4 separate regions of the Homo sapiens genome follow, and regions 1, 3 and 4 are each linked to region 2. The links come from fine-mapping of genetic effects on gene expression. A gene starts in region 2. Each other region holds a variant in brackets. All regions are shown on one strand. Distances are between the middles of the regions.

Region 1 (8,346 bases), 180 kb before region 2:
CTATTCCATTGATATATGTGCGGTATGCTAGTACCACATTATTTTGAATGTTTTTGTAAGTTTTGAAGGTAGTGTAAATCTTCCAAACCAACATCATCTCGAAAATAGTAAAAAAACTTTGCATAGTTTACTCTCTTGACCTCATTGCTTGTGTGTATGTGTTGCTGATTTTTGTTTTTCATTTGTTTCTTTTTGTGAGTTTCTGCTTTCCAAGATGTTGCCACCACCAGGGACTTCCTGCTTGTTATTTTCCAATGCAGATATTGTATATATTAAGGAAGAAGCAAAGTACTTTCAGCTAGTCGGAAGGAATTAGACAGCAATTGGTATTCTTCTTTAGCCCGTTATTGGTAGTAAGCAACTCTAGATTCCAATAGTATATGATTTTTGACAAGGTCAGTAAATTGGGGTTGCAGCAACAAAAGTGTGTACCAGAAGCCCTGTGTTTAAATACCACGTCTGATACTTGACAGGAAATGAAATTGTAACACTTTTCAATTTAAAATTGTGTTTCTTTTCCTTCTTCGCCCATTCTTTAACAGAAACATTCCTATCCTTGCCTGAAGCAGTCTTTTGCAGGAACATTTGAGGTACTGTAATGGCAGTTGCCAAACTATAGTGTGTGTTAATTGGGAACATGTTGAATTGAAGAAAAATGTTAGATAAAAATTGCATTTAATTTTGTTTCTGACTACATATAAATGGACATTTAAAAAATCTCATTAATGAATACAGTTCCTGGTTTCAAAATAGCACTCAGGTATTTTCCCCTTCTTAAACCACTTTAGTTTACAGTAAAAATATTAGGAGAAAAGGTAAAATGTAGCATATTCAATTATAATATTGATTATATATGAATGTTTTATTTCACGTGTATTTTTGGTCTTTCCGATTAAATCGTGTGCTTTCCTAGATAGAGATTTTATCTTCTGTTTATTTTGCCTCATTTCTCACCTACTGGAAATGACTATAGATGTTGGTTATGCATTTGAATTAACTTGTTTTGATGAATAGTAAGTCCCAGGCTATAGTAGGAATATAGATGTATTTTTTTTCCTACTGAAATCACATTTGTCCTTTGAAAGACATTTCTAAGCTTTGCACTTGATAACAGCTTAGAATTTTGGAAAACCGGTAGGTAATGAGGTGGAGATGAGGTTAATAATCTCATTTCTGAGCGCTTGAGTTTCTCGCCTTTAAGTTGTTGATATAGACTGATCGTTGTTAAGTGCTTTTGGAGGGCTGGTCATCACTTGTTTGTGTCTGCTCCTGTGTTTGCCTCATAAAGACTTCAGTGGATTGCAAGATCAGTCAGACAAATGGAAACATCAGTCAGCTGCTCAAATAGATATTTTTAGAAATGTTTTTCTTCTTAGTCCTAATCATGAAGTTTACCGCAAATCCTTCATTTGATAGTGGGTAAGAGGAAATGAAGCAGGAGCTCCAGAGAAGGCACCTTGAGTAGTAGGATCCAAATGAAAATTGAAGAAGAGATTACATTCCTGAGTAAACATTTTTTTCTCCTTATGATTATTATCAAAACCTGGTCTTAAAAAAAACCTGGTTCTTGCATATGGTTATAGGATAGGTCTTATGTAATGGAGTTTAAAAACCTAGCAAGAAACACATAAATGAATACTATGCTATTGTATTTTTTTCTTATGATAGGATATATGGTGTTTTAAAATGTTCTATGTCTGACATTGATTTTACTTTTGTAAATTCATTTAAAAATATTTTGAAGTTAATTTTTATTTTATTTCCTTATTCAAAGGTAGACTATTTTGGTTACAAATGTGTTAAATAGTACCTATATCAATTTAGGGTTTTTCGGTTCAAGTAATAGAAAGGTTTGGGTAACTTAAATGATTTACTAGGATGATAAGCTCATTTTCTTCCAAGATGAAAAATGGAGTTTTAGAAATAGTAGACATTTGAACAGCTTTAGGGATCTAGAGAGCAGAAAGCAACAATCTTTGTGGAGCCCCCATTAGGATAGTTTTTTTTGTGATTGTTTTTCATTCACGTGATCACTCTGCTTGTGATTCACATTTATCAGAGAGAGAGAGACAGGCATGGACTGATTGGTCTGGCTCTTTTTTTTTTTGTCCACTCCTTTTGCTAGGAGAGCGTGGAGTACCAAGATTGCATATGTTGGAGGAGGGATGTTCCTTTCCCAAAAGAAGATCAAGGTGGATGTTAACAGAGGAAGGGGAAATGGGTCCGGACAGGTTAAAACAAAAATCCAATACTGCCGTAGTTTCTAGGTGGATATAACATTTTTAGAAATCTTATAATACAATATTAACTTCATTGGCTGAACCCAAGCCTTTCAGCCTTTATAGATTTGCCATGATCCTAATACATATAAGCATTCATTGTATTCATTATTAATTACTTCATAGATTCAGTGTGTGACGAAGGGAGATGATTTTTAACAAATAATAAAGTGAAATGATCTAGTTTTGCTATGTTGTTTGAGCAACATCAAATAGTTTTGCTTAAAATAGATAATTTATAGTGATTTTTTTTCACTATGGTATTTTCTTAAATATATTAAGTGCTTTTCATTTTCTGATACCACCTAGTTTAATTGGGGGTGAATATCAGAGAAATTAGAATGTTATTTCAGCTGAAGGAGTACAGTTTTTTTTTCTCTTCTTAGAGAATATAGTGCCTCAGATACAGTCCACAACAAAAATTTTTGTTTAGAAAAGAAAAATTTTAAGGAACAGATTTGTCAATTTCTGTGTATTTTTTGGTCAGTTTTTTTTTTTTTTTTTTTTTGAGAAGGAGTCTTGCTCTCTTGCCCAGGCTGGAGTGCAGTGGCGCGATCTCGGCTCACTGCAAGCTCCGCCTCCTGGGTTCACGCCATTCTCCTGCCTCAGCCGCCTGAGTAGCTGGGACTACAGGTGCCCACCACCATGCCTGGCTAATTTTTTGTATATTTAGTAGAGATGGGGTTTCACCGTGTTAGCCAGGATGGTCTCGATCTCCTGACCTCGTGATCTGCCTGCCTCGGCTTCCCAAAGTGCTGGGATTACAGGCGTGAGCCACCGCACCCGGCCTTTTGGTCAGTTTTTTTTAGTGCGCAGTACTTAATTACTATACCTTCAAAACTAAACAATTACTATACCTTCAAGACTACTGGATTTGATTTTAAGTTTTACTACATGGCCTGTTAATTCAGTTATCTCTCCCCCAACCCACACATGTTGAAGGCTTTCAATTGTTTCCTGTTTGTATATACACAGTACTCTTCACATATTGTCACAGTTTGATACATCTTATTAATATTTTCCTGTCTCCTCATTCTCCATTTCTTAAAATCCATGTGGGTTTGCCAAAAAGGTGCCTGTAGAAATGTACAAGCAATTGGTCTGAAGGGACTAGTTTTTATAACCTGAGTTGGACCTAACTTGAATGATGGAGGGAATACTTTATTACCATTGAATTACTGAAAGTCAAATTTAGATTGCTGATCTGCTTGGAAGCTAACTAAGAAAAGGAGAATGGTGTCACTTAAGTAACACAACTTGTTTTTCTTTGTGCTTGTTTTATGATGCTAAGTGAGTGATAAAAGGTGATACAATGACTTTAAAAAGCACTTCTGGTGGTTTTATAAGGCAATTTTCCCTGCTCTTGCTCACTCTTCTCTGTCCTGCCACCATGTGAAGAAGGTCCCTGCTTCCCCTTTGCCTTCTGCCATGATTGTAAGTTTCCTGAGGCCTTCTCAGCCATGTGGAACTGTGAGTCAGTTAAACCTCTTTTTATAAATCACCCAGTCTCGGGCAGTTGTTTATAGCAGTGTGAGAATGGACTAACACAATGGTACTATAACATTTAATAAAAATAATAGGGATGGCAATTTATTATGTCTATAGTTGGGTTCATTTATGTAGTTCATTGATGAGAACTTATGTTGTTTCTGGAAGTGGAAGATCTTCAGTCTAATACTCCTTTGTTAGTTATGTCTTCAGGGAAGTGAATTAAGCCTTCATGCCTTTATTGCTTTATTATACTATAAAGAGTCTGTTTGCTTGATGATAAAGTTAGCTCCTTATCTCTGCCAGTCCACAATTCTTAAGTGTCTAAGGAGCACCTACTGTGATAGGCACCTCCTGTGATAGGCACTCTTCTAGGTGTTGGGAATACCTCACTGAACAAAACAAACTGCTTATGGAGCGCTTCTATTTGGGGATATAATATACTATACTTA[C/T]ATGTGGGGATATAAACAAATGTGTGTGTCAGGTGTTAAGTGTCTTGGAAAAAAAAGTAGTTGGTAAAAAGATGAATAAAAGAATGGGAGGAGGCAAGTTGCTATTTTGCTATTTGTAGCTAGGATGGTCAGGGAAGATCTATTTGATAAAATGGCATTTAAACAAAGAAACCTGCAAGAAGTGAGAGAGTGAACCATAAGGAAGAGTGTTTTAGGCAAAGAACAGCAGATACAAAAACCTTGTGGTGGCTGGGTGTGGTGGCTCACAGCTGTAATCCTAGGACTTTGGATGGCTGAGGAGGGAGGATTGCTTGAGGCCAGGAGTTCAAAACCAGCCTTGGCAACATAGTGAGACTTTTCTACAAAAAAAAAAAAAAAAAAAAAGCCAGGCCCGGTGGCACGTGCCTATAGTTCTTACTACTTGGGAGGCTGAGTAAGGCTGAGGATCCCTTGTTTCCAATAGTTTGAGATTATAGTGAACTATGATCTTGCCACCACACTCCTGACTGGGCAACAGAATGAGACCCTGTGTCTAAAAAGAAAAGAAAAAAAATGTGGAAATCTGCTTGACATGTTAAAGGAATATCATATCATAGAGGCTTTTGTGGATGGTGCAGAATGAGCAATCAGCATGTTACTTCACTACTCTGAGCCTTAGTGTCTTCATTTTGAAAATGGGGCTATAGTGAAAAATTACTTGCTTTATAGGGTTTATGTGATGACTACATTATGTAATAATGCATTTAAAGCAACTAGTAATGTGTCTTCGAGTATAAAGTGGATCATGTTCCTGCCTTGCATAGGCTTTTCATTGGTTTCCTCTTTCACAGTGAATAAAATCCAGACTCTACTGTCTCTAGAGCCTTATCTCAGATAGTTCTCCTCATTGCTTACTATGCTTTAGCCATGCTGGCCTTTGAATAATGAGCCTATTCTTATCTCGAGTCTTCTTCCCCCACTAGCTTCTTCAGTTTTTCACAGAAAGGGTTTCAACGATGTATTCAGATACAGATCTACTGTTTTAATAGAAAGCCAAATGAACAGTGGCTTAAATAAGAATTTTTTTTTTTTTTTTTCTGTTTGGTAGTAGCAGGTAGGTAATCCAGAGCTGGCATGACACTGCTATTCTAAGGCAAGTACAAATGGTTAGTTGCTTCATGGTTTAGAGGCTCAAAAGGTTTCAGCTGGGTTTCGTAATCTGACATACCTTCTAAGCTTTGATTAGGTTTCTACAAATCCACTCACCAACTGATTTGTTTTTGGAAGGGGATAGTAACAAGTGCCCAAGAAGGGAAAAATAGCAAGGATTCCAGTTTTCTTAAATTTATTTTTCTGAAGTTTTAGCATTATCTTGTATTTTCCTTATAGTGTGCACCTTAATATCCTAGTTCAGTTTCTGATTGTTAGTTCATAATGCTTTAAATAATTGTTGTTCCTAAGCAGAAGCCCTTAGTATAAGAAACAGCTTAGAATCCTTAATGTTTCTCACATTTGAAATTCATAATGATATTTTAGCTTTGTCATAGTTAAAAAAAAACAAAACAAAACTAAGATTGAAATGAAGTAGTGACATAATAACTTCATACTGCTTTTTCAGAGGTAGACCACACTACCCCTGTTTTGGACTTTGGTATCCTTGGTTAATTCTGGCATAAGATTGTGTTATAGCTTGAGAGGAGGTTGGGAGAAGTGAAAAATTTGATGAAATTTTAAAGTTGCTATACTTTACTTATTTTTATTTTTATTTTTTTGAGACAGGGTCTCCCTCTGTTGTCCAGGCTGCAGTGTAGTGGCGCCATTATAGCTCACTGCAACCTCTGCCTTCTGGGCTCAAGTGATTGTCCCACCTCAGCCTTCCCTAGTAGCTGTCTGTAGCTATAGCTATAGCTAATACTATAGCTATATCGTTGTGTGGGTGTGTGTGTGTGTGTGATTCTGTTACACTTCCTTATCTTCTTTGGCTTGTGACAACTATCTTTTATTTTAGGATGTACCCTTTCTATAGTACTCACTTGATTCATTTAATTTCTGAAGCTTTTTGGGTGATGACTAACTTCATTGCAGAGGCATTTGGTTATTAAGACTGGACTCGACAAGGCATGATTTATATATAAAATATAAAAGGATTGTTCAAATTGTCTAAAAGCACATAGAAAAAATTCTGGTAATCAAAACTAACTCTTATTTACAAGAGTGAAGTTTCTTAGAAATGGCTCGTGAATCATGATTTCATCTTCTGTTATTAATAATAATACTTTTTTTTTTTTTTTTTTTGAGACGGAGTCTCGTTCTGCATGTAGCCCAGCCTGGAGTACAGTGGCATGATCTTGGCTCACTGCAGCCTCCGCCTCCCAGGTCCCAGTTCAAGCAATTCTCCTGCCTCAGCATCCCAGGTAGCTGAGATTACAGGCATGTGCCACCATGCCCAGCTAATTTTTGTATTTTTAGTAGAAACAGAGTTTCACCATGTTGGTCAGGCTGGTCTTGAACTCCTGACCTCGTGATCCGCCCACCTCGGCTTCCCAAAGTGCTGGGATTACAGGTGTGAGCCACCGTGCCTGGCCAACAATAATGCTTATATATTAGAAGGTAAAATGCTACAGGGGGTTGTATTTGGTAGCAGTTAAGTAGACAGGGATAAACAGACAGTTGGAAGACAACTCTTTATTGATTTCTTGCATTTCTGCATATCTTGCAAGTAAAGCACTGACTGCCTGTTACTCTAGACTACCTTTTCAAGAATGTTTATCTAGTGAGCAGCCTTGGAAGATAATGATAGTATTTTCCTCCTTAGGAAAAGAAAAGGCAGGCATTCTTGCTGTCCATTATAAAATATTTGGGTTCCCTAAGCTCAGGACTCTTCTGTATTGCAACTCAATGTTTTTTGTAGGCATTTCCCTGGGCCTGTCTTGGTATGGATAAGATAATTCGATAACTAGAAAAGGTAGGAAAGTAATTGGAACATGTAGGATTCTCCAAACTGATGGCTTTACAAATGTTTTAAATTTTGCTTCACTTTAAAGAACTACCCGTAGAGCTCTCAGACCCATGTATTATAGCTGTGGTTTAAACAAGGAAGATATGTAATTCTAATTGACAGATTTATACTCGATGATAAGGCTTTCCATCAAAAGATTGGAGATATATGTATATTTCAGTTGTAATAAAATGTTTAACATATTGTTTTGGTTTCCTACTTGAACTGATTTTTCTTTTGAAGAGCTGACTTTTTCCTGATTAGGTAGGATCAAAGGGTTTTAATTGAAGTTGAAAAACCTTAGAAAACTGTAATTAATGTACTTTATTGATTGGTTGTAGTTATTGTAAGTTGCCTCATGTTGCACAATCCCCCCCCACCCCGGCCCACCACCCTCCTTAATTTATTACTCTAAAGACAGGTCCTAATATGGACCTTAAAGTTGAGGTGGTACCGTATACCTTACATTCTTTTGCATTGCAGTGATTATGTCAGCAATATATAGACAGCAGGTAAAACTGCTGGCTGTTAGATTGTAGAATATTAGAATTTTAATGAGTGTCAGTAATTGACATTTTAGCCTCATAATTTTACTTATGAGGAAACTGAGGTCCAGAGGTGTAAAGTGGTTCACACTTAGTTCTCAATAGAGCTCTGGACTTAAAAATGAGATTTACTGGCCAGGCATGGTGGCTCACACCTGTAATCCCAGCATTTTGGGAGGCTGAGACGGTGGATCACCTGAGGTCAGGAGTTCGAGACCAGCCTGGCCAACATGGTGAAACCCTGTCTCTACTAAAAATACAAAAATTAGCTGGGCATGGTGGTGCACGCCTGTAATCCCAGCTACTTGAGAGACTGAGACAGGAGAGTTGCTGGAACCCGGGAGGCGGAGGTTGTGGTGAGCCGAGATCGCACCATTGCACTCCAGCCCAGGTGACAGAGTGAGACCCTGTCTCAAAAAAAAAAAAAAAAAAAAAAAAAAAAAAAAAGAGATTTACTGATAGCAAGTATAACATTTGTGTATCTCCTCGTGTAATTTTTACAGTTATATATTATATATTAGAAAATATGCAGCTTTTGACTTAAGCCAGTAAATTCATGGATTTTATTAGTTGAGGCTAATCAAAGTTAAAGGCCAGTAAAAAAA
Region 2 (8,290 bases):
GGTTTCTAGGATTTATGACCTTATGACCAGTTTTTTTCATTTACCAAGATTTTATTTTCCTACATGAAAATTTAATTGAGTAATAATTATTCACATGTGCATTTTCTTTTTAGCTGTTAAATGTACTATGCCATCATCCACCATTTAGTAAAATGTAGCTGGCCCAGGACATGTAAAAAAAAAAAAAAAACAACAACAATAAATAGGGCATGTGAAATGTTAAGTTACAGCAATAGATATTTTATTTGTATTTCATGTTAGTACTTTTTTGTTTTATATCACTTATAAAGGTACAGTGTACTCTTTGTCACAGCTCAGTTGGTAACCGCATTCCATTGAAAAGTTGGCCTTGTAAAATACAACTCTCATTTAATATTCATGCTTTTGTGCCTTTAAGAAAATATTTTTTGTCATTTTTTGTGTTACAGAACTATAATGTGATTCAAGGTGTTTATAGGCTTGTCATAAAAGGGTCATTTCTGTGTGTTACTTTCTTTTTATATAGCTATAGTATATTTAAACAATAATACTATCTTTTATAGGGGTTTGTCTATTTACCTATTCTTTACTCAGACATTGATGTAGACTTGTCAGATTATTCTGAGTATTGTTAACAGTGCCTTTTCGATGGAATCACACTTTTTGGCTGTCACCTTGTGCCATATACACACAAAATTTTGTGGAAGGCAGTTTTAACTTTCTGAAGAATATCTGTCAAAATTTAAGAAAACAAATGTATAAAATTCCATTTTTTCCAGTGTTTAGCATTTCTAGTAAGCAGTGAGGTTGTTTGACATACAGTGATGATGGCATTATTGATAAGCCATACATGAGACTGCAGATTATATTGAATCATATTAAATGTACAGAAATAAAATATTAGATTTATATCAAATTTTCCAATTTGAACCAGTGGGGAAAATCCCACAGAAATCAGTAAGTTTACATTTCAATTTCTATCTTATTTGACTAAGTGGAAAGAGATTCTTTAAAATGTATAACCTGCCATTATGTAATTTGGTTTCATTTTATTCTACCTGTTGTGTGAGTTTAGTATATTTAATTTACTTTTTGTTACTCTTTACATACTGTTTATTTTTGTTAGTTTTTAATTGAAGATGGACTGTTGAAATTGTATAGGACCAGTGTCTTATTAATATGATTAATATATTTAGAAGAGCCACGTGAAACCCATGACAAAATGAATGTGAATATTCTTTCTAAAAATTTAGAAAATGTTATCTTTTTGCATTTATTATGTAAAACTGTTTTACAGTATCAAAATTTTTCACTTAAAGAAAAAAAATGCCATGAAACATTTGAACTGATGAGCCACAGAACTTCAGTTGAAATTTTTTTCACTTTTTAGCATGCTAAATATACATCTGAGTTTAAATGTTCTGTTTAATGGCCATTCATAAATTCAAGCACTACCACTGGTCAGTTTTGTGTGATAGAATAAAAATATGTTACCTGCAGTGTAAGTACAGCACACTGTCAAATTCTTTTCCTTAAGGTGCACAGTAAATGTACAGATAGTTATAGGCCACTGTTTTGTAATGTAGTACATTTCTAATCTATTATTCCTAACCTATTATAACTGTTTGCAGAAAGAAAAGAATTTTTCTAATAATCTGTAAAATTATGCTAACTTCTACAAGTAGGCTTCTAAATAAAATTTTTAAAAAGAGCAAACGGTGATCAAGTGACTTTTAATACAATATGATGACTAAATTATTGCTAATTTGTTTTAATCCCCCCTTTTGTGGGGATAGGGATAGCTGCAAAGGATGGCAAAGGGCTTGAAAGGGATTCAACAGTGAGAATCCCTGAAGTATGCTTTGCTTGGTGCCTTATATTCATTCTTCTCGAATCCTCTATGAGAACCTTAGGTGGACGTTAGCCAGATTTTATACATGAAGATGCTGAGGCTCAGAGAGGTTGAAAGTCTCCAAAAGCTGCGGAGTAAGAGTGGTAGCCGACTCTTACTTTAAGAGTAAAAGCACAAGTTTGAATCTGTATCTCCGTGGTACACTTAAATAGAACTCTAATAGCACTTCACTTCTAAATGTCAGGAATATAATCCACTGCTTGAATCTATATTGAGTAATGTAACCCCTTTGTTATGAGTAGCACCACAAAAAAACCCTACTATTAAACATATACGAAATCCATATGAAAGGGTTTTTTTTTCCCCCCTCAGATCACCTATTAGTCCATACTGAGTCAACATCAGATGAGTTCCGAGACATCATTCCTCTCTGGTTTTCCCCCACCCTCCTTTCTTCCCATTCTTGCTCTCTGCTCAGGGTCCAGTTGCTTCTGGCTGTCATTTGGTTTGGTTTTATTAATTGGGGAGAAAAAGATGGGAGGGCCTGCCGGTTCCTCCTATCTTGTTCATAGCAATAAGGATTAAGGAAAACGGCCCCTCATTGTCCAACCTCGTGAAACATCTACAAGATCATTTTCTTGCTAATACTGGCATGCTTCGACTCTAGATGATGTATGTTGTGCCATTATGCTAGTTGAATCTTCTGCATCTCACAAAATATCACTTGTGGGAATAATAAACCAGGAGAGTGGTGACCTACCACAGTAATTTGGTGGGTGCGTCAGAGGCATCTGAACCAGAGCAACTCCAGTAATTTGGTGGGTGCGTCAGAGGCATCTGAACCAGAGCAACTCCATCTTGAATAGGAGCTGGGTAAAATGAGGCTAAGATCTAGGCTGCATTCCCAGATGATTAAGGCATTCTAAGTCACAGGATGAGATAGGAGGTTGGCACAAGATACAGGTCATAAAGACCTTGCTGATAAAACAGGTTGCAGTAAAGAAGCCAGCCAAAACCCACCAAAACCAAGATGGCCACGAGAGTGACCTCTGGTTGTCCTCACTGCTATACTCCCACCAGCACCAAAGACAGTTTACAAATGCCATGGCAATGTCAGGAAGTTACCCTATATGGCCTAAAGAGGGGAGGCATAAATAATCCACTCCTTGTTTAGCATATCATCAAGAAATAACCATAAAAATCGGCAACCAGCAGCCCTTGGGGCTGCTTTGCCTATGGAGTAACCATTCTTTTATTCCTCTTTCTTAATAAACTTGCTTTCACTTTATGGACTCGTCCTGAATTCTTTCTTGCATGAGATCCAAGAACCCTCTCTTGGGGTCTGGATTGGGACCCTTTTCCTCTAACAGGTGTAATATAAATATCTGTTGAGTGCTAACTATGCCAGGCACTATGCAAAGTGTTTAGTGAACATTCTCCACCTACTCAAAACCTCTTGAGATTTTTATTTTGTATATGTTATCTCCACTGGTTTTTTTGGCGGGGATTGTTTTGTTTTGAGACAAGGTCTCGCTCTGTCGCCCAGGCTGGAGTGCAGTGGTGCAATCTTGGCTCACTGCAACCTCCCTTCCCGAGTTCAAATTATTCTCATACCTCAGCCTCCAGAGTAGCTGGGATTACAAGCATGCACCACCATGCCCAGCTAATTTTTGTATTTTTAGTAGAGACGGGATTTTGCTATGTTGGCCATGCTGGTCTTGAACTCTCGGCCTCCTGTGATCTCCCACCTCGGCCTCCCAAAGTCCTGGAATTACAGCCATGAGCCACTGCGGCAGGCCCATTGTTTTTAAAGATGAGAAAAGCAGAGATCAAAGAGGTTACTTGGTGAATGCCACAGGTAAGGAAATGACAGAGCAAATCCAGGTCTGAATCCAAAGCCCATGCTCTCAAGTGCCTGTGTTTTAGGCCAGGCAAGGTGGCTCATGCCTGTAATCCTAAAACTTTGGAAGGCCAAGTTGGGAGGATCACTTGAGGCCAGGAATTCAAGATCAGCCTGGGCAACACAGGGAGACCCTGTCTCTACTAAAAGAGAAAATAACCAGGCGTAGTGAGGCACAAAGCGACTTGAAGGCTAAGACAGGAGGATCACGAGCTCAGGAATGCGGAGCTGCAGTAAGCTATGATCTCGCCACTGCACTCCAGCCTGGGCGGCAGAGTGAAACTTCATCTCTTAAAAAACAAAAAAAATGTTATAAGAGACAGTATTTTCTGTCTTTGGGTTATATACAATAATCCTTGGCCATGTGTTTTAAAGCATACTGTTGATCACCGACGTGATTAATGGATTTAAATCTGCACAGCGGCTCATGCCTGTAATCCCAACACTCTGAAAGGCCGTGGCAGGTGGATCATTCAGGTCATGAGTTCGAGACCAGCCTGGTCAACATGGTGACATCCCCATCTCTACTAAAAATACAAATATTGGCGGGGCACAGTGGCGTATGCCTGTAATCCCAGCTACTTGAGAGGCTGAGGCACGGGAATCGCTTGAGCCCGGGAGGCGGAGGTTGCAGTCAGCCGAGATTGCGCCACTGCACTCCAGCCTGGGCGACAGAGCGGGAGTCCATCTCAAAAAATAGAGACTTCGCATCATTTCTGCTTAATATATTTGTGGTGTCTAGAGTTTTATTGTGATACCTGAGTCTAGGAAATGTGGTAAAGCCTCTGCAGCAGACATAAAGCCTGCAATTCATGGCTGTGGCCAGGCTCTCCTCACCTGTCCTGCATCTACAAATTATTTCCGTTATGGTAAGGAGAGCAACTCGTGGGGAATGTGGACAGGAACATGCGTGAATCCAAGGCAGAGGTTTTGCCCCGGAAAAAGCAGCTTCTGGCAGGGGATGAAAGCCAGCAGAGTTCCAACCGGGGTGCCCTCTCCTTCACGCAGGCCCCACTACCGTGTTGACTTAGGAAGAAAGTTTCTCGGGAGACTAAGGGATTTGGGGGCAGCGGACGCCACTGGAGGGAGATGAATTCACCTAGGGAGCCGGGGAGGGGCTTAGGGTTGCCGCTCCAGGCACAGCTGCTGGAAATCCTAGTCTGTTTTTTCTGCCTTCGCGTACAACGGGCCAGCTCACCCCACCTGGCAAAGCTGCAGGGCTTTTCCACCAGGCGGACAGAAGGGCAGCCCTCTCGCCCAACCAAGAAGCCGTGCTACCCCGGCTTCGACTCCTGGCTTCCGGGTTTTCTCCCCGCCTATTCCGTTTCCGGCCGTTCCCACCCCTGTTTTCGGTCGGCCCGGGTGTTCTGCAAGCTGGTCAAAAAGGGGAAGCGGCCCAGATATGTTAAGTTCTATGGCCGCTGCAGGGTCTGTGAAGGCGGCGTTGCAGGTGGCCGAGGTGCTGGAAGCCATCGTGAGCTGCTGCGTGGGGCCCGAGGGACGGCAAGTTTTGTGTACGAAGCCCACTGGCGAGGTGCTTCTCAGCCGGAATGGAGGCCGCCTCCTGGAGGCGCTACACTTAGAGCATCCCATAGCCAGGTACCCGCGTCCCACACGCTAACCCGTAGCCGGGCACCCCAGGCAGCCTCTGTGGAGCTCTTGTCCCATCCTGAGGCGATGCGTACTTAGAAAGACTGACCTCGGGTGAAACCGCTGTATGCTCGGAATTAGAGCCCTGCCCAAGGGAACACTCCTGCACCCCAAATCTTACCAATTCTCAAGACCACTTCTCCCCACTCCACCCAACGGTGGAATCTTGGAATAGAGCAGAGTTTTTTCCAAGAAAGGAAAAAACTAAGGATGTATCCAAGGAACAATATTCTCATTTTATGCTTATGGCTGTGTAAACATGGTTTTAAGATGTGGGAAGCCAGCCTTCTGAAAATGAGTTGCTTTATTTCTTTTTTGTACAGGATGATAGTGGACTGTGTTTCCAGTCATCTCAAAAAAACAGGAGATGGTGCAAAAACATTTATTATCTTTCTTTGCCATTTGCTTAGAGGACTTCATGCAATCACAGACAGAGAAAAGGATCCTTTGATGTGTGAAAACATTCAAACCCATGGAAGGCATTGGAAAAATTGTTCTCGGTGGAAATTTATTTCCCAGGCTCTCCTAACGTTTCAGACACAAATATTAGACGGTATTATGGACCAGTACCTAAGTAGACACTTTTTGTCTATCTTTTCGTCTGCTAAAGAGAGAACATTGTGTAGGAGCTCTTTAGAGTTGCTCTTAGAAGCATACTTTTGTGGAAGAGTGGGAAGAAATAATCATAAATTTATTTCACAGTTGATGTGTGACTACTTTTTCAAGTGTATGACTTGTAAAAGTGGGATTGGTGTATTTGAGTTAGTGGATGACCATTTTGTAGAGTTGAATGTTGGTGTCACTGGCCTTCCTGTTTCAGATTCCAGGATCATAGCTGGTCTTGTGCTTCAGAAAGATTTTTCTGTGTACCGCCCAGCAGATGGTGACATGCGAATGGTGATAGTAACAGAAACCATTCAGCCTCTTTTTTCCACTTCTGGATCAGAGTTTATTCTAAATTCAGAAGCACAGTTTCAGACATCTCAATTTTGGATTATGGAAAAGACAAAAGCAATAATGAAACATCTACATAGTCAGAATGTAAAATTGCTCATATCTAGTGTGAAACAACCAGATTTAGTTAGTTATTATGCAGGGGTGAATGGCATATCAGTGGTTGAGTGTTTATCATCAGAAGAAGTTTCTCTTATCCGGAGGATCATTGGTCTTTCTCCATTTGTACCACCACAGGCCTTTTCGCAGTGTGAAATACCTAACACTGCTTTGGTGAAATTTTGTAAACCTCTTATCCTTAGATCCAAAAGATATGTTCATCTAGGCTTGATAAGCACATGTGCATTTATACCACACTCTATAGTTCTTTGTGGACCAGTGCATGGTCTCATTGAACAACATGAGGATGCTTTACATGGAGCACTTAAAATGCTTCGGCAATTATTTAAAGACCTTGATCTAAATTACATGACACAAACCAATGACCAAAATGGCACTTCAAGTCTTTTTATTTATAAGAACAGTGGAGAAAGTTATCAAGCACCAGATCCTGGTAATGGCTCAATACAAAGGCCTTATCAGGACACAGTTGCAGAGAACAAAGATGCATTGGAAAAAACTCAAACATATTTAAAAGTACATTCTAATTTGGTAATTCCAGATGTAGAATTAGAAACATATATTCCGTATTCAACCCCCACACTGACACCAACAGATACATTCCAAACAGTTGAAACGCTGACATGTTTGTCTTTGGAAAGAAACAGGCTAACTGATTATTATGAACCATTACTCAAGAACAATTCCACTGCTTATTCAACAAGGGGAAATAGAATAGAAATTTCTTACGAAAATTTACAGGTCACAAATATTACTAGAAAGGGAAGCATGTTACCAGTGAGCTGTAAGTTACCGAATATGGGTACTTCCCAGAGTTACCTTTCCTCATCTATGCCAGCTGGTTGTGTTTTGCCAGTAGGTGGTAATTTTGAGATCTTGTTACATTACTATCTTCTCAATTATGCCAAAAAATGCCATCAATCAGAAGAAACCATGGTTAGTATGATAATAGCTAATGCACTTTTAGGCATTCCCAAAGTCCTTTATAAATCTAAAACAGGAAAGTACAGCTTTCCACATACATATATAAGAGCTGTCCATGCACTGCAAACCAATCAACCCTTGGTAAGCAGTCAGACAGGTTTGGAATCAGTAATGGGTAAATACCAGCTACTAACTTCAGTTCTTCAGTGTTTGACAAAAATATTAACCATTGACATGGTAATCACTGTTAAGAGACACCCTCAGAAAGTTCACAATCAAGATTCAGAAGATGAACTATAACATCAGAAGTTTTTAATTAACCAAACTTTTCATCTAACTCAAGCCAAGTAAAGCAGTCATGTGACCACTGGTTCTAAAGTCAGTTCAGTCTACTTAGGAAAATAGCGTAACTTTAAAAGTCTTTAGAAGAAGCACACTAAGGTCACCAGACCAGATACAAATATTAAATTACTTTATGGAACAAATCTAGAGGGGAAGCCAAGATTTGGCTAAGTGTGTCTGTTTTTTCCCTATTTTATGCCTCTGTGTCTCAGCTCTGTGTTAGCCTATGTGTTTAGGGGAGGGTTTTTCTTTATAGCTCCTTTTTACTCTCCTGTATCTTTTTCACTCCAGCCCTCCTTCATCGTTACATGTTTAGTTCATAGAATCATTTAATCTCTGATTTGGGTGGGCTTATTCTAATTGTTTTTAATATTGAATACATTATTTGCATTAATTTTCCCTACTCATACTTTGTAAAGCTGAGTAAAAGGCTCAAATTATTTTTTTCAAAAAGCATAAAATTAAATTAGCAGTGAGTAAAAGGCTCAAATTTTTTTTCAAAAAGCATAAAATTAATTTTTACTTTTATGTGGTCATTGGTTTACTGCCACTTCATTTGGAAAACTTGG
Region 3 (8,346 bases), 120 kb after region 2:
CAAGCTCCACACTGATCAACCACATGGATTCAAGCTCCAGTCCCGCTTCAGAGGACTCAAGCTCCAAGCACCAGGCCAGTCCAGCCAAGGACTCCAGCAAAAACTCAAAAAAATCACAAAGGAAGACAGCACAAGAGGAAGAAAGGAGCAAAGGAACTATAAAACAATTAACAAAATAGCAGAAATCAATTAACAAAGTGGTAGTAGGCCCTTACCTATCAATAATTATTTTAAATGTAAATGGAGTAAATTCTTCAAGCAAAAGATAGAGAGGGTGGATGAATACATAAAAAACCAAGACTCAATGATATAACGCCTACAACAGACTCACTTTAACTTTAAGGACACACATAGGGTGAAAGTGAAAGGATGGAAAAAGGTATTCTATGTAAATGGTAACCAAAAGATAGCAGGGTTGTTATGCTTATATTAAACAAAATAGATTTTAAGTCAAGAACTATTACAACAGAGAAAGACGGTTATGATACGATGATAAAGTGGTCAATTCATCAAGAAGATAAAATAATTATAAAGGTGTATACACTCAATATTGGAGCACCTAAATATAGAAAGCAAATATTAACAGAATGGAGGGGAGAAATAGACAGAAATACAATAATAGTAGAGGACTTTAATACCCCACTTTTAACAATGGGTAGATCATCCAGACTGAAACTCAGTAAAGAAACAGCAGACTTGAACAACAACGTAGACGAAATGGACCTAAAAGACATATACAGAATGTTCTACCCAACAGCAGCAGAATATACATTCTTTTGAAGCACAATGAAATATCCTCCAAGATAGATCATATGTTAGGCCACAAAACAAATCTTAACAAATTTTAAGAAGATTGAAATCATATTAAGTATCATTTCTGACCACAATGGTATAAAACCAGAAATCAGTAACAGGAGGAAAATTTGAAAATTTACAAATATATGGAAATTAAACTACACACTCTTGAACATCCAGTGAGTAAAAGAAGAAATTAAAATATTTATCTTGAGGCCAGGCTCGATGGCTCACTCCTGTAATCCCAGCACTTTGGGAGGTCAAGGTGGAAGGATCACTCGAGCCCAGGAGTTCCAGACCAGCCTGGCAACATACTGAGACTCCATCTCTACAAAAAATAAGAAAAAAAATGAGCTGGGTGTTGTGGGGTGTGCACCTATAGTTCCAGCTACTAGGGAAGCTGAGGTGGGAGGATCACTTGAGCCTAGGAGGTCAAGGCTGCACTAATCTCCAGCCTGGGGGATAGAGTGAGATCCTGTCTCAAACAACAACAACAGCAAAACAATAACAACAACAACAACAAACAAATCTTGAGGCAAACAAAAATGAAAGAAACAAAACATACCAAAAGTTGTATACCAAGAATGCAACAGAAGTATTTTGAAGAAGGAAGTTTATAACAATTAATGCTTACATTAAGATTAGCAACCTAACTTTACACCTCAAGAGAAACTAAAAAAAGAACAAACTAAGACCAAAGTTAGCAGAAAGGAGGAAATAATAAAGATTAGAGCAGAAATAAATGAGAAACTAGAAAACAATAGAAAAGATAAACATAACTAAGAGTTGGTTTTCTTTGAAGATAAAATAAATAAACCTTTCACTAGACTAATTAAAAAGAGAGAAGACTCAAATAAATTAAAAATAAAAGAAAACATTGCAACTGATACCCCTGAAAAACAAAGGATCATAAGCAACTACTCTGAACAATTATATTTGAACAAATTGGATAACCTAGGAGAACTGAATAAATTCCTAGAAACATACAACCTACCAAGACTAAATCATGAAAAAGTAAAAATCTGAACAGACCAGTAACGAGTAACGAGATTGAATCAGTAATCAAAAACCCTCACAACAAAGAAAATCTCAGGTCCTGATAGCTTCACTGATTAATTCTATCAAGTATTTAACAATTTTCTTAATTTTTTGGCTGGGCACAGTGGCTCACGCCTGTAATCCCAGCACTTTGGGAGGCCGAGGCGGGCAGATCACGAGGTCAAGAGATCGAAACCATCCTGGCTAACACAGTGAAAACCCGTCTCTACTAAAAATAAAAAAATAAAACAAAATTAGCCGGGCATGGTGGTGGGCACCTGTAGTCCCAGCTACTCAGGAGGCTGAGGCAGGAGAATGGCCTGAACCAGGGAGGTGGAGCTTGCAGTGAGCCGAGATCCCATCACTGCACTCCAGCCTGGGCAACAGAGCATGACTCCATCTCAAAAATAAATAAATAAATAAAATTAATTAATTAATTAATTTAAAGTAGATATATATATGTATTTTTATAGAGACAGGGTCTTACTATGTTGCCCAGGCTGGGTTGAAACTCCTGGCCTCAAGCCATCCTCCTGCCTTGGCCTCCCAAAGAGCTGAAATTATAGGTGCGAGCCACTATGCCTGGCCCTACCAAGCATTTAAAGAACAGTTACCACCACTCTTTATCAAACTTTTCCAAAAAATTGAAAATGAGGAATTACTTCAGTCAAGTTATGAGGCCAGAATTACCCTGATACCAAAGCTAGAAAAAGATACAAGAAAAGAAAATTACACATCAATAACCCTGATGAACAGTCTCAACAAAATACTAGCAAACCAAATTCAACAGCACATTAAAAAGCATCATACACCATAATCAAGTGGGATTTATCCCTGGGATGCAAAGATACAAATCAATAAATGTGATATACCACGTTAACAGAATGAAGCATAAAAATCCTATTATCATCTCAATAGAGAAGAACCACTGGAGAGCACTCAACATCTTTTCGTGATAAAAGTATCTCAGCAAATTATGGGGCTGGGCGCGGTGGCTCACGCCTATAGTCCTAGCACTTTGGGAGGCCAAGGTGGGTGGATCACTTGAGCCTGGGAGTTCGTGACCAACCTGGGCAACATGGGGAAACCCCGTCTCTATATAAAAATTTTTAAAAATTACAAAAATCAACAAATTAGGTGTAGCAGGAACATACCTCAACATAATAAAGACCATATATGACAAGCACACAACTAATATTGTACCCAATGTTAAAAATCTAGAAGCTTTTCTTTATGATCTGGTACAAGACAAGGATGTTCACTTTCAGCACTTCCATTCAATTAAAAAAAAAAAAAGACATCCAAATTGGAAATAAAGAACAAAATGGTCTTTGTTTGCTGACAACCTGATAATATATATAGAAAAAGCCCTGAAAACTCCTCCATCAAAAAACCTGTTAGAATAAACAAAATCAGTAAAGTTACAGGATACAAAATCAACATACAGAAAGTAGTTGCATTTCTGTACACTAACCAGAGCTATTCAAAAAAGAAATTAAGAAAACAATCCCCAGGCCTATAATCCCAGCACTTTGGAAGGCTGAAGTGGGAGGATTGCTTGAGTCTGGGAGTTCAAGACCAGCCTGGGCAACATAGTAAAACCCTCATCTCTACAAAAAATAAAAATAAATTTGCTGGGCATGGTGGTGCACACCTGTAGTCCCATCTACTCAGGAAGCTGAGGAGGGAAGATTGCCTGAACCTGGGAGGTTCAGGCTGCAGCGAACCATGTTTGTGCCACTACACTCTAGCCTGGGCAACAGAGAGAGACCCTGCCTGTAGTCCCAGCTAATTGGAAGGCTGAGGCAAAAAGATTACTTGAGGCTAGGAGTTCAAGGCTGCAGTGAGCTATGATCACACCACTACACTCTAGCCTGGGTGACAGAACAAGACTGTCTCAAGACAAAATCCAACCAACCAAACAAAACCATTTAGAAATAAATTTAACCAAAATGAAAGACAGTACACTGAAAACTATAAAATATGTATGAAAATGAAGAAGACATAAATAAATGAAAGACTATTCCATGATCATGGATTGGAAAAATTAATATTGTTAAAAAATCCATTCTACCTAAAATAATACAGATTCAATCCAATCTCTATAAAAATTCTAATGGCATTTTCCAAAGAAATATAAAAAACAATCCTAAAATTCATAGTCAAAGGAATTTTGAGGAAGAAGAATGAAGCAAGAGACATTACAGCACCTGATTTCAAAATAGACTACAAGGCTATAGCAATCAAAATAGTATGGTACTGGAATAAAAACAGACACCCAGACCAATGAAACAGAATAAAAAGCCCAGAAGTAAATCCATATATTTGTGGTCAATTGATCTTTGACGAAGGTGCCAAGAACACACAATGGGGTAAAGAGAGCTTCTTCAATAAATGATCATGGGAAAACTGAATATCTACATGCAGAAAAATAAAATTGAACACTTATCTCACACCACATGCAAAAATTAACTCAAAATATATTAAAGAGTTAAACATAAGACCTGAAACGGTAAAACCACTAGAAGAAAACATGAGTGGAAAGCTGACACTGGTTTGGACAATGATATGAACAAAAGCATATGAATATTGGTTTGGACAATGATATGAACAAAACCATACAGATATGACC[T/C]CAAAATCCTAGACAACAAAAATAGGTAAATTTACCTATTTTTAGGTAAATGAAATTGCATCAAACTTAGAAGCTTCTGCACAGCAAAGGAAGCAATCAACAGAAAATAGAGATAACCTATGAAATAGGAGAAAATATTTGCAAACCCTATATCTGATAATGGGCTAATATCCAAAATATATAAGGCATTCAAACAACTCCACAAGCAAGAAAACAAATGACTAGTTTAAAAAATGGGCAAAAGACCTGAATAGGGATTTCTCCAAAGAAGACATACAAATAGCCAAGGGGAATATGAAAAACTGCTCATCATCACTAATCATCAGGAGAATGCAAATCGAAACCACAATGAGATATTACCTCACACCTGTTAGAATGGCTATTATCAAATAACAAGTGTTGGCAAGGATGTGAAGAAAAGGGAATACTTGTATACAGTTAGTGGAAATGTAAACTGGTATAGCTATTATAGAAAATAGTACAGGAGTTCCTCAAAAAAATTAAAATAGAATTACCATATGAGCTAGCAATCTCACTTCTGGGTACATATCCAAAGGAAATGAAATCAGTGTGTTGAAGAGATATCTGCACTTCTATGTTTATTGCAGCATTATTTACAATAACCAAGATTTGAAATCAAGCTAAGCATCCATCTGTGAATGAATGAAGAAAATGTGGCATATATATATGTGTGTGTGTGTGTGTGTGTGTGTGTGTGTGTGTGTGTGTGTGTGTATAATACAATGAAATATGAGTCAGCCTTAAAAAGGAAGGAAATCCTGTCATTTAGGACAACATGGGTGAATGTGGAGGACATTTCGTTAAGTGAAATAAACCAGGCACAGAAAGAAAAATAAATACTGCGTAATCTCACTTATATATGGAATCTAAAAATATCAAACTTACAAAAGCAGAGCAGAATGGTGGTTGCCAGGCACTGAGGGATGGGGAAATGGGGAGATGCTGGTGAAAGAGTACAGAGTTTCAGCTCTAAGATGAGTAAGTTCTGGAGTTCTAATGTACAGCATGATGACTATGGCAAATAATATTGCATTGTATGCTTTTTTTTTTAGACAGGGTCCTGCTCTGTCGCTCAGGCTATAGCGCAGTGGTGCCATCACAGCTCGCTGCAGCTATGACCACCCCGGCTCAGGCGATCCTCCTACCTCAGCCTCCTGAGTAGCTAGGACTACAGACATGCCACGTGGCTAATTTTTGTAGAGAGAGGATTTCATCATGTTGCCCAGCTGGTTTGGAACTCCTGGGCTCAAGGGACCCACCTGCCTTGGCCTCCCAAAGTGCTAGAATTACAGGCGTGAGCCACCACGCCCTCAAGAGTAGATCTTAAGTGTTCTCACCACACACACACACACACACACACACACACACACACACAATGTGAGGTAATTAGCTTGATTGTGGTACTCATTTACAATATATACATATATCAAAATATTACACTGTATGCTTAAATATATACAATTTTTATTTGTCAATTATACCTCAATAAACCTGGAAAAAAATTGAAAGAATACGTTCAACAAAAATCCATATCACTTCACCTAAATCCAGTACTGCCCCACACTTTACAGATCTCCTTTGCTTGTCCTCAGCCTTGCCCATCCCCAAGGGCTGGGGAATATTCTGGCTGACGGGCATGTCCATCTGGGGCCTATCTCCCACCTCTCCTTATTATTTTTATTTCATGATTCAGATATCCTAGAGTACAGAATCCCTGCTACTTTCATCTTTTTGGAGTCTGCTTACTTGAGGTTAGACCATATTCACTATGCACACTCCTAGACCAAAAGGTGGCCAAGGACCAACTGTGGGAGTGGGAGTGGGAGTGGATAACTGTAGCATGGATGGTGTTTGAACATATGAACTGGGGTGTCCACACATATGTGCAGGATGGACCGAGGGCTAGGAGGAGAAGGGAAACCCAGCTCCTGGCCAGATGACTGGAGGCTGGCTCTCCTTGCATTGCTGTGTGCTAGCATAAATCTTATAGGAGTTTGCAAATTTTAAATGTGATCTTGGCTTCTAAGTTATTATGAAGATATGCGGTCAAAGTAACAGTTAGTACATCTTTTTTTATTTTGTTAACTTGCCTTATAAAACTTTAAGTATTTAGGCACGTGGCTGAATAGTCTTCATTTGCATTTGTGTCCCAACCATGGCAAGAGTTAGGACAGGATGGCTTGGATACGCTAATTGCATACAATAATTGTCAGCATTTGCCACATTTGCTTTCTCTCTCTGTCTGTCTGTCTATCTGTCTATCTACGTCCTATCTGCCTGTGCAGCAATGTGCCTCTTTTTAAAGCTGAGCCTAGCCAGGTGCAGTGGCTCATGCCTATAATCTCAACACTGTGGGGACCCAAGGTGGGAGGATCACTTGAGCCTAGGAGTTGGAGACCAACCTAGGCAACATAGTGAGACCTTGTCTCCACAAAAAATTGAAAAATTAGCTGGGTGTGGTGGCACACATCTGTGGTCCCAGCTACTCAGGAGGCTGAGGCAGGAGGATCACTTGAGTTTGGGAGGTCTAGGCTGCAGTGAGCCATGGTTGGGCCACTGCACTCCAGCCTGAGTGACAGAGCGAGACCCTGTCTCTAAGTAAATAAATAAATAAAACTGAGCCACTTGAAAGTGTATTGCAGACATCATGAGACTCCATCTCCAAGTACTTCACCATTGTTTTCTAAGAGAAAGGACATTCTTTTTTATAATCACTATTCTATTATCACACCAAAGAAGTTTTACGTTAACATAATAAAATTATCTAATATCTACCCAATGTTCAAATCTTCTCCATTGTCTTTAAAATGCCCTGTTGAGGTTTTTTTTTTTGTGTTCTGTTTTTTAAATCTAGGATCCAATCAAGAATAACTACCACATTTGTTTTTTGTGTTGTATATAATAGTAATGACATTAGGAAATCACCAAAAAAGCATTTATCTTAAGTAGAGGTCAGGTCAGATAGCTTAGTGTAATTGGTGAAGATGTTAATACACTAAATATATTATATTGAAATAGAATGCAATGTCTTCAACATTTTAAGAGATGAGGGAAAATAAATGCCAACCACCTTCAAGCTTCATTTTATACTTTTTTCCCTCCATATTGTTATTCCTAAATGATATGTATCTGCTTTTCTTTCCATAGTCTTCTATTATGACTTTACCTTTGGCCTAAAATTTAGATGAAGAAAGGGAATTTCAAATGAGGGAATTTTTGTAAGGAAAACTTTAAGCAGGTTGTGTTCTCATGTTTTTAATTTGCAAAAATTTAAACTTTTGCACATTTGCAAATCCTTTGCAATGTTAAACACTGATTTTTCTCACCTCTCTCTTGGCCAGATATTTCTTTCTCAGTGTCTTTGTGTGCACAGTAAAACATTGATGTTTGTGAAAACTCAATCATTTCCTGTTAGCTCAATTTTTTGTGTGTGCCAACATACTATAATGTTATAATCATAGGGCTATATCTGTCTTGTAAAAGTTTATTCAAGAATAAAAAGATATGCAGATAAGTAAATGGTTTTTAAAATCTCATTATAGACTATGTCTTCTATATATTTTTTATCTTCCCAGGTGCCCATTATAGTGTTCTACACATATTTAAGATTATTGACTAACAAAAAAGCAAAATGAACAAAAACTAAAATAAAATAAAAATAAAAAGAATGTTCTTCACAGGAAACACATGAAACAGATGAACTTTGGGTGTTAGTAATCAATATTCCTAGATATTCATTTGGGGAGGTCATATGTATATACACACACACACACACACACACACATATACACACATCTATATATACACATACATATATATACACACATATATATATACGCATATACACACACACACACACA
Region 4 (8,346 bases), 150 kb before region 2:
TCATAATTTTCTCACTGTTAAAATTTTTGCACAGCCAGTTTCACCATCAGAAGAAGAGTGGTCTGGTTTATGTCTCTCTTCCACCTTCCAAATACTGTGGAAATGCATTGCATTGGCTGAATGTAAGTCACATCTATAATCCCCAAGGCAAAGACATTTGCAAAATGTAGTTTCCGTGCTTTTAGCTTCTATGATACAGAGGAGAGCACAGAATGAATGATAAAATAAATTTATTTATACCTATATTGATAAGATATGAATATATACATATATATTGGATTAGTCAGGGTACTCTAGAAAAACAGTACCAACAGTATGTGGGGACACACACACATACACACACAAAATGGGGACTAGCAAGTATGAAATTTGCAGGGTAGGTCAACAGGCTGGAAACCCACCAAATTGCTGATGTTGCAGTCTTGAGTCTGAAGGCAGTCTGGAGGCAGAATTTCTTTTTAGGACCTCAGGTTTTTTTTTTTTTTTTGGCCTTTAAGTGGTTGGATGAGATCCACCCACATATTGAGGGTAACCTGCTTTACTCAAAGTCTACTGATCTAAATGTTAAACACATCTAAAAAAAAAAGTCTTCACAGCAACATCTATACTGATGTTTAACCAAACAACTGAGTCTCATAGCTTAGCCAAATTGACACATAAAATGAACCATTATAGTCTATGCCTTGTTACATTGGCACCCACCATATCTCTTTAAAAACATACTTGTTATAGGCCAGGCGCGGTGGCTTATGCCTGTAATCCCAGCAGTTTGGGAGGCCGAGGCAGGTGGATCACGAGGTCAGGAGATCGAAACCATCCTAGCTAGCACGGTGAAACCCAGTCTCTACTAAAAATACAAAAAAAAAAATTAGCCGGGCATGGTGGCGGGCACCTGTAGTCCCAGCTACTCGGGAGGCTGAGGCAGGAGGATGGCGTGAACCCAGGAGGCGGAGCTTGCAGTGAGCCGAGATCGCGCCACTGCACTCCAGCCTGGGTGGCAGAAGCGAGACTCCGTCTCAAAAATAAAAAAAAACATACTTGTTATAAGCTGAATTGTATCCCATTAAAATGCATATTGAAGTTTGAACTTCCAGCACCTCAGAATGTGACAGTATTTGGAGACAGGGTCTTTAATGAGATAGTTAAGTTAAAATGAGGTCACTAGGGTGGACCCGAATTCAGTATGACAGGTCTCCTTATAAGAAGAGGAAATTTGGATACAGACACGTACAGAGGGAAGACCATGTGAAATCTCTGGGAGAAAATGGCCATCTCAAGCTAAGGAGAAAGGTCTCTGAAGAAACTAAACCTGCTGAAACCTTGATCTTGGACATCTAGCCTCCAGACCTATGAGGAAATAATGTTCTGTTGTTTAAGCTACCCCCAGTTTGTCGTATTTTATTATGGCAACGCTAGAAAATTAATACAATAGTTAATCTCCAAACAAAGACAATAACAAAGTCATGCTTCCACCCAACGGTACAACTGTCTTGCGTAAAATGTACTTTTTCCCCAAAGAGAATGTAAAGTCCTTGGGTGATGTTCATTTTTCTTGTTATTCTGTAACTGAAATACTGTAATGTAGAGTTAACAATACTTAAATGCTATGAAATAAAGTCATTATATCTTATATGATAAAGCAATAAGAGAGGAAAGAAAACAAAGATATTTGATACACAACTGTATTCATAAAACAATAAGGAAGTAATAATCCCAGAAATTACAATTTTTGTCTCTGTAACTGATCACGTAATTGTAGCAGGTATTTATAACTACCTTCTTCCACTATCCCTTCTGTATTCATTTACCCTCAGCAAGTACCTCAACTGGTCATGGCTTTTGACCTGGTAGGATGACCCAAAGTTTCATTCCTGAAGAGTCTAGGCGATTACTAGTCCTGTCTAGATTGGATTGTTGTGATTTTCTGTTGACTTTAATCACCGAACATGCAGTACTAAAAGATATCCCATCATATTATCCCATCGTATCTGAAATATCCCATCGTATCTGAAATAGCTCCTGTATTTCAGACATACTTTCCCATACCTCTATTGTAGAGTAGCAGTCCAGTTTCTCCATGGTAATTAGGATCGCTCACCTCAGCCAGCCTAGTAAACCCCCTTCTTTGCCTGCTGATTCAGAGGCATGGGGACCTTCAAGTGGCCAAATGGCAGTCTTAACTTCGAGTTCAGTGGAATCATTGCTGTGTCTCCTGGTGAAGGCATTCCTCTCTTTGGATTAAGACCTCCAGACTGGCAAAGCGTAGGGTTATGGGGACAGGATGCAAAAATTGTATTAGTGGATCAATAGGGGTAATAGTGGATGATGTCACTTCCATTCCTCCCTCTCATTCTCAGAGCCATGCACCTTGGCTATAGGAGAAAATGCACTGTATGTTGCATATTGACCCAGAGCATATACAGCCTTCTGGCGATCCATGTATGAATTGCTCCATAGCTGATGCTACAATTGAGTTTTCAAAATGCCACCCCACTGTTCTGTCAAACCAGTTACTTCATGATGTTGGGGAACATGGTAAGGCCAGTGGATTCCCTGAGCATGGATTCATTGCTGTACTACATTTGCTGTGAAATGAGTTTCTTCTTCCAAAGCAATGCTGTATGTATTACTATTATGGTAGATGAGGCACTCTAAGTCTATGGATGTTAGTTCAGGCAGAAGCATTGCATGGAGGGAAGAGAAATTTATTCAAGTAGGAACAAAATGCTGCCCCTTCGTGATGGAAGCAGCTCAACGTAATCTACCTGCCACTGGGCAACTAGCTAATGACCCTCCACAGTGATGCTGTATTGAGGACTTGGTGTTGATCTCTACCGCTGGTCAGTTGGGCACTCAGCGGTGGCTCTAGCCAGGTCAGCTTTGGTGAGTGGAAGTCCATGTTGCTGAGCCATGCATAACCTCCATCCCTGTCACCATGGCTACTTTGTTCATGAGCCCACTGTGGAATGACAGCAGTGGCTGGAGAAAGAGGCTGACTAGTATCACAGAATGGGCTCTCCTATTTCCTTGATCATTAAAATACCTCTCTGCTAAGATCACCTGTTGGTGAGCATTCACATGGGACACAAATATCTTCACTATAAAGGCCCAGATAGTAAATATTTCAGGCTTTGTGGACTACATATTGTCTCTGTTACATATTCTCCTTTTCTTCTCTCCCCTCTCCCTTCTATTTTCCTTCTTCTTTATAGCCCTTTAAAAACATAAAAACCATTCTTACATTGTGTGCTATAGTTTGCTGACCCCCAGCTTACATGTTAAAAAATGCAAGATTCATTTAAGTGAAAATTGTATTGGGAAGGAATCCACATTTCCAGATAATGAGGGTTGAGGAAGGCACTGCATTTATTTTAATTATAAATTGGGATTTAAATCTAAGAAAACATGAATAAAGCACC[C/G]AAAGGTATTATAAAAACACACACTTATGTATATGTGTCTATGTGTGTGTGTGTGTGTGTAAAGATACACACACATACAATTACTCAATAAATAATTACAAATCACCTAATATTTTATAAGTTTATTAACCAAAGTTACTGGCACAAACTCAGATGCCTACTAGGACCTGGCAGATAAAAGGGCATTTTTGAAGTGGTTAAGTACACAGTAGTAACTGAACTGCTTATATGTCAGTAAATTCAAACGTTAGCAGAATGACTTTGCCAGACTTTGTGAGGACTGAGTAAAACATGGTTCCAAACATATATGTGGCCCCTGGGTAATCAGTTTTTATGATCACCTGTAAAAGCAGAGGCTTGTTTCTAACATCTATACTTTTAAGAAATTCTTTTTTTCTCTTACCCTGGTCATAAGAAAAAAGAAAAAAAAGAAAAAAGAAGGAAAATCTTTAAATTCTTCAGCATGTAGTCCTTGAAGGAAGATTTGTACTTTAAAACTGATGGGCTCCACTCATTCAGGGCAAGAAACTATAAAAGTATTGGGGAAAGTATAAAATGAATATGTTGTAATCCATTATTGTTAAAAATATAATCTTATAGGGAAGATAGGAACATATGCAATTTTAACAAATTTATATAAACAAATTTTAAAAACTTAAATAGTATTAAGTGATATATGAACTTTGGAAGTTCAAGAATCAAGAGAATACTTCTAGTTAGGGGAAATCAAGGAAGCCTTCGTGAAGAAGGTAATATATGACTTGGACTTCACTGGGTGGGTTGGGTTTGGTTTTGCAAGAGAAATATTTTCTAGAAGGAAGAATGCAGGCAAAGGCATGGAAATATGAAGTCATAAGAATAGGATCTATGAAGGCACTGGTGTATATGCAGAATAGCAAATAACTCAATTTGGCTGACACAAAGGGTCAGAGAAAGCAAGCAATAACTGAGAAAGGCAAGTATAAGCAAAATAATTGTTACCCTCCAATGCCAAGGCAAGATTTGGACTTAAATCTTTAATAAGCACAGCTGAAGTTTTTGATATTAAGTCGACATGATCACTTCTGTGCATTAGATTATAAAACTAGGTATAAAACTGATATAATATGTAGGCGTGAAGGCAGGGGCAAAGATAGAGGAAATGAATGCTTGAACACTCTTAAGAAATCTTCCAGGGCAGGTAAAGGATCATTGGAGGGTAGCTTTGAGGCAACTAGAACAGAAAAGGGCCTTATTGAGAGTAAGGGAAACTTGAGCATTATGGGCAATGGAAGGACTAACAGGACAAATTTTTTTTTTTTTGAGATGGAGTCTCGCTTTGCCACCCAGGCTGGAGTGCAGTGGTGTGATTTCTGCCTGCTGCAACCTCCGCTCCCGGGTCCAAGTGATTCTCCTACTTCAGCCTCCCGAGTAGCTGGGATTACAGCAGGGATTAGCCACCATGCCCGGCTAATTTTTGTATTTTTAGTAGAGACGAGGTTTCAACATTTTGGCCAGGCTGGTCTCAAACTCCTGACCTCTGGTGATCTGCCCACCTCAGCCTCCTGAAGTGCTGGGATTACAGGCATGAGCTACTGTACCTGGCTGACAAATTGATATTGAAGTAAAGGCTTTTACTGGGCTGGGCACTTTGGTTCATGCCTGTAATCCCAGCTCTTTGGGAGGTCGAGGTGGAAGGATCGCTTGATCGCTTGAGCCTAGGGATTCAAGACCAGCCTGGGCAACATGGCTGTATTAGGGTTCTCTAGAGGGACAGAACTAATAGGATATAGATAGATTAGATAGATTAGATAGATAGATAGATGATAGATAGATAGATAGATAGATAGATAGATAGATAGATAGATAGAGTTTATTAAGTATTAACTTACATGATCACAAGGTCCCACAACAGGCTGTCTGCAGGCTGAGGAGCAAGGATAGCCAGCCTGAGTCTCAAAACTGAAGAACTTGGGAGTCCAATGTTTGAGGGCAGGAAGCATCCAGCACTGGAGAAAGACGTAGGTTGGGAGGCTAGGCCAGTCTCCCCTTTCACGTTTTCCTGCCTGCCTTATATTCGATGGTGGATGATTAGATTATGCCCACCAGATTAAGGGTGGGTCTGCCTTTCCCAGTCCACTGACTGAAATGTTAATCTCCTTTGGCAACACCCTCACAGAAACACCCAGGATCAGTACTTTGCATCCTTCAATCCAATCAAGTTGACACTCAGTGTTAACCATCCCAATGGTGAAACTTCATCTTTATAAAAGACAAAAAACAATAAACGTAGCTGGGCATGGTGGTGTGTGCCTGTAGTCCCAGCTAGTCTGGAGGTTGAGGTGAGATGATCACCTGAGCCTGGGAGGTCAAGGCTGCAGGGAGATGTGATGGCACCACTGCACTCCATTCTGGGTGACCCTGTCTCAAAAAAAAAAAAAAAAAAAAAAGTGGGGAGGCTTTTATTACCACTAAGTGCCAGAGGGATTAGCTCAAAAGCATAGATAGAAAACTTAGTCACAGAAAGGATGGTACCTGATAGAGAAGAAATTCAAATGAGAGCTTATAAAATGTCTGCGTTCAAAGCATTTGAACATTTCTTTGTTTTAAAAAGGATTCTTGTATAGATACTTTAAATCAGTTGTCAGGACTCAAATACTTACACAACCTGGACAGGTAGCAAAAATGAGTGAAACAGTGAAAGTACAGATGCAAACATGGTGTGAGAGGTGCGTGCTTGCACCTTGTAAAGTGGATGGCTGCTACTCAGCTCTAATCAGTCATTGCTTAAGTGTTGCATCCATAGTTTCAAGACAAACCCTAAATTAATACTGTTATGTACAGTTTTTGATTTTTTAAAATATTGGCTAGAAAAAGGACCAGAATCAGGAATCAGAGCCAGTTTCCTGACATTGTGTGACCTCTTCTTTATATACGTAGACAGGGTTTCGCCATGTTGGCCAGGCTGGTCTCGAACTTATGACCTCAGGTGATCCGCCCGCCTGGGCCTCCCAAAGTGCTAGGGTTACAGGTGTGAGCCACTGTGCCCAGCCCAAATACTGATTTTTAAAAAATCATTTGCCTGAGAAATATCTATATGCCATTCATTGACTAACAAACATTTATTGGGCATTTATCACATGCTAGTCACTGAAAATGCATCCATATCCTTAAAATGGAATGATAAGGAAAATGTTCACACAAAAACAGTTGCTTTGTGTTGAAAAGTGTTGAAAGTGTTCAACAAAAACAATCTATATAAATTCATGTGTTCCTTAGTTAATATTTTTGATATAAAAATGCCCAATCCTAACACACTACTGCTTGTACAAGTTATGGAGAGAAGTGTTATATAAGAGTCTCTTCTGTTATTAGAGAATCAAAAGAAACTCCTGTCTTAGCTATACTTCTTTTGCCTCATGTTACAAAGGTACAGTAAAAAAGGACCTTATGCACTTAAGCCCTTACATAAGCTGCCTAGGCTTTAAGGGCACCAAAACTCAGAAAAAAGTTGTTTGGACAGAAGTATAAAAACCACGTAGAGAAGAATTCAGAAGAAGCTAATATTAAAACATACAGGGAACATACTGCTTCAGAAAGTGATAAAGTTAGTAGTGAGACACATGCTGAGCAAAGAAGCTACTTTTAGGGTTTAGGTGTAGGTCTAAGTGGAGCTAAACAAAGGAGAAAAACTGTGAGGGCAAGATTTGGGGTCACCAGGAAAGATTCCTTTATTATGCATACAATTGTGCTATTTACACGCGATGTTAACCTGAAACACTACACCAGGAATCACCAAAGTATGCTCTACTCCTATTTTTGTAAATACAGTTTATCAGACTCATTTTGTTTATTCATTTTTCTATGGTTGCTTTCATGCTACAACATCAGAACTAAGTAGTTGCAATAGAAATCCTATCATCTGCAAAGTCGAAAGTAAAATCTGTTTGCTGTGTGGCCCTTTACAAAAAAAAAAAAAAAATTTGCTGATTCCTAAGCTATACAGATACACTGCAATATCTATCTCCCTTTAGTTAAAAAAATTTTGATAAAAATATTTCCTTACTTAGTTCATGTATTGTGGAATGTGGGAACACATCACTGAAATGTACATAACCGAGTCTCTTTTATCAGGTACAAACACTTAAGGGTATTAAAGCCTCAGTATTCATACTGTCTGTTAAAAATGAAGGATGGGGCCAGGCGTGGTGGCTCATGTCTGTAATCCCAGCACTTTGGGAGGCTGAAGTGAGAGGATTGAGGCCAGGAGTTCAAGACCAGCCTGAGCAACAGAGTGACACCACATCTCTACACAAGTTAAAAATATTAGCCAAGGCCACGCACGGTGGCTCACACCTGTAATCCTAATACTTTGGGAGGTTGAGGCGGGTGGATCACCTGAGGTCAGGAGTTCGAGGCCAGCCTGGCCAACATGGTGAAACCCCATCTCTACTAAAAATACAAAATATTAGCTGGGCGTGGTGGCAGGTTCCTGTAATCCCAGCTACTTGGGAGGCTGAGGCAGGAGAATCACTTGAACCTGGAAAGCGGAGGTTGCAGTGAGCTGAGATCCTGCCATTGCACTCCAGCCTGGGCAACAAGAGCGAAACTCTGTCTCAAAAAAAAAAAAATGTATTAGCCAGGTCTGGTGGTGCATGCCTGCTGTGGTCTCAGCTATTCAGGAGGCTGGGGTGAGAAGATTGCTTGCACCCAGGTGGTTGAGGTTGTAGTGAGCTGTGATTGTGCCACTGCACTCTAGCCTGGGCAACAGCATAACCAAGACACTGTCAAAAAAAAAAAAAAAATTACACAGCATTTATTCATCAACATGTTAGACAACTCAGGATCACCAGATACTTGAGGAAAACCAACAGCACAGAAGGGGAAGGGTCAAGAAGAAGTAACAAATGACTTCAGAGGAAACAGAGAGGATTCCCTGGACGGAAGA

Which allele goes with the higher level. Alleles are on the strand shown, and positions count from the first base shown. SD is a standard deviation of normalised expression in the study named. Not every link is listed here.
For the expression in prefrontal cortex of the gene that starts at base 5,077 in region 2, allele G in region 4 goes with a lower level than allele C (moderate effect, 0.72 SD a copy in BrainSeq).

What was found. PIP is the estimated chance that this variant, and not a neighbour inherited with it, causes the effect. A credible set is the group of variants that fine-mapping cannot tell apart.
Region 1: its variant is the best candidate, but not a certain one, in a credible set for the expression of BBS10 in whole blood (GTEx, PIP 0.87).
Region 3: its variant is the best candidate, but not a certain one, in a credible set for the expression of BBS10 in putamen (GTEx, PIP 0.70).
Region 4: its variant is the best candidate, but not a certain one, in a credible set for the expression of BBS10 in prefrontal cortex (BrainSeq, PIP 0.73).

What each region holds. Positions count from the first base shown.
Region 1 is chr12:76,526,478-76,534,823 of GRCh38, reverse strand. All of the region lies in intron 1 of OSBPL8 (oxysterol binding protein like 8), which reads left to right. Among named protein-coding and RNA genes, the nearest start is that of OSBPL8, 29 kb to the left of the region's middle. RefSeq lists an enhancer at 3,100-3,828. The variant C/T (reference allele first, on the strand shown) is at 4,220.
Region 2 is chr12:76,345,202-76,353,491 of GRCh38, reverse strand. It overlaps BBS10 (Bardet-Biedl syndrome 10), which reads left to right and starts at 5,077. Exons shown (of 2, transcript NM_024685.4): 1 at 5,077-5,330; 2 at 5,705-8,290. The coding sequence starts at 5,134. The coding sequence ends at 7,679. OSBPL8 (oxysterol binding protein like 8) reads left to right here. Exons shown (of 24, transcript NM_020841.5): 24 at 1-1,695. RefSeq lists enhancers at 4,676-4,725, 3,872-4,821, 4,822-5,771.
Region 3 is chr12:76,223,624-76,231,969 of GRCh38, reverse strand. No RefSeq gene overlaps it. Among named protein-coding and RNA genes, the nearest start is that of LNCOG, 32 kb to the left of the region's middle. The variant T/C (reference allele first, on the strand shown) is at 4,466.
Region 4 is chr12:76,496,228-76,504,573 of GRCh38, reverse strand. The region is part of intron 1 of OSBPL8 (oxysterol binding protein like 8); the gene reads left to right. Among named protein-coding and RNA genes, the nearest start is that of OSBPL8, 59 kb to the left of the region's middle. The variant C/G (reference allele first, on the strand shown) is at 3,420.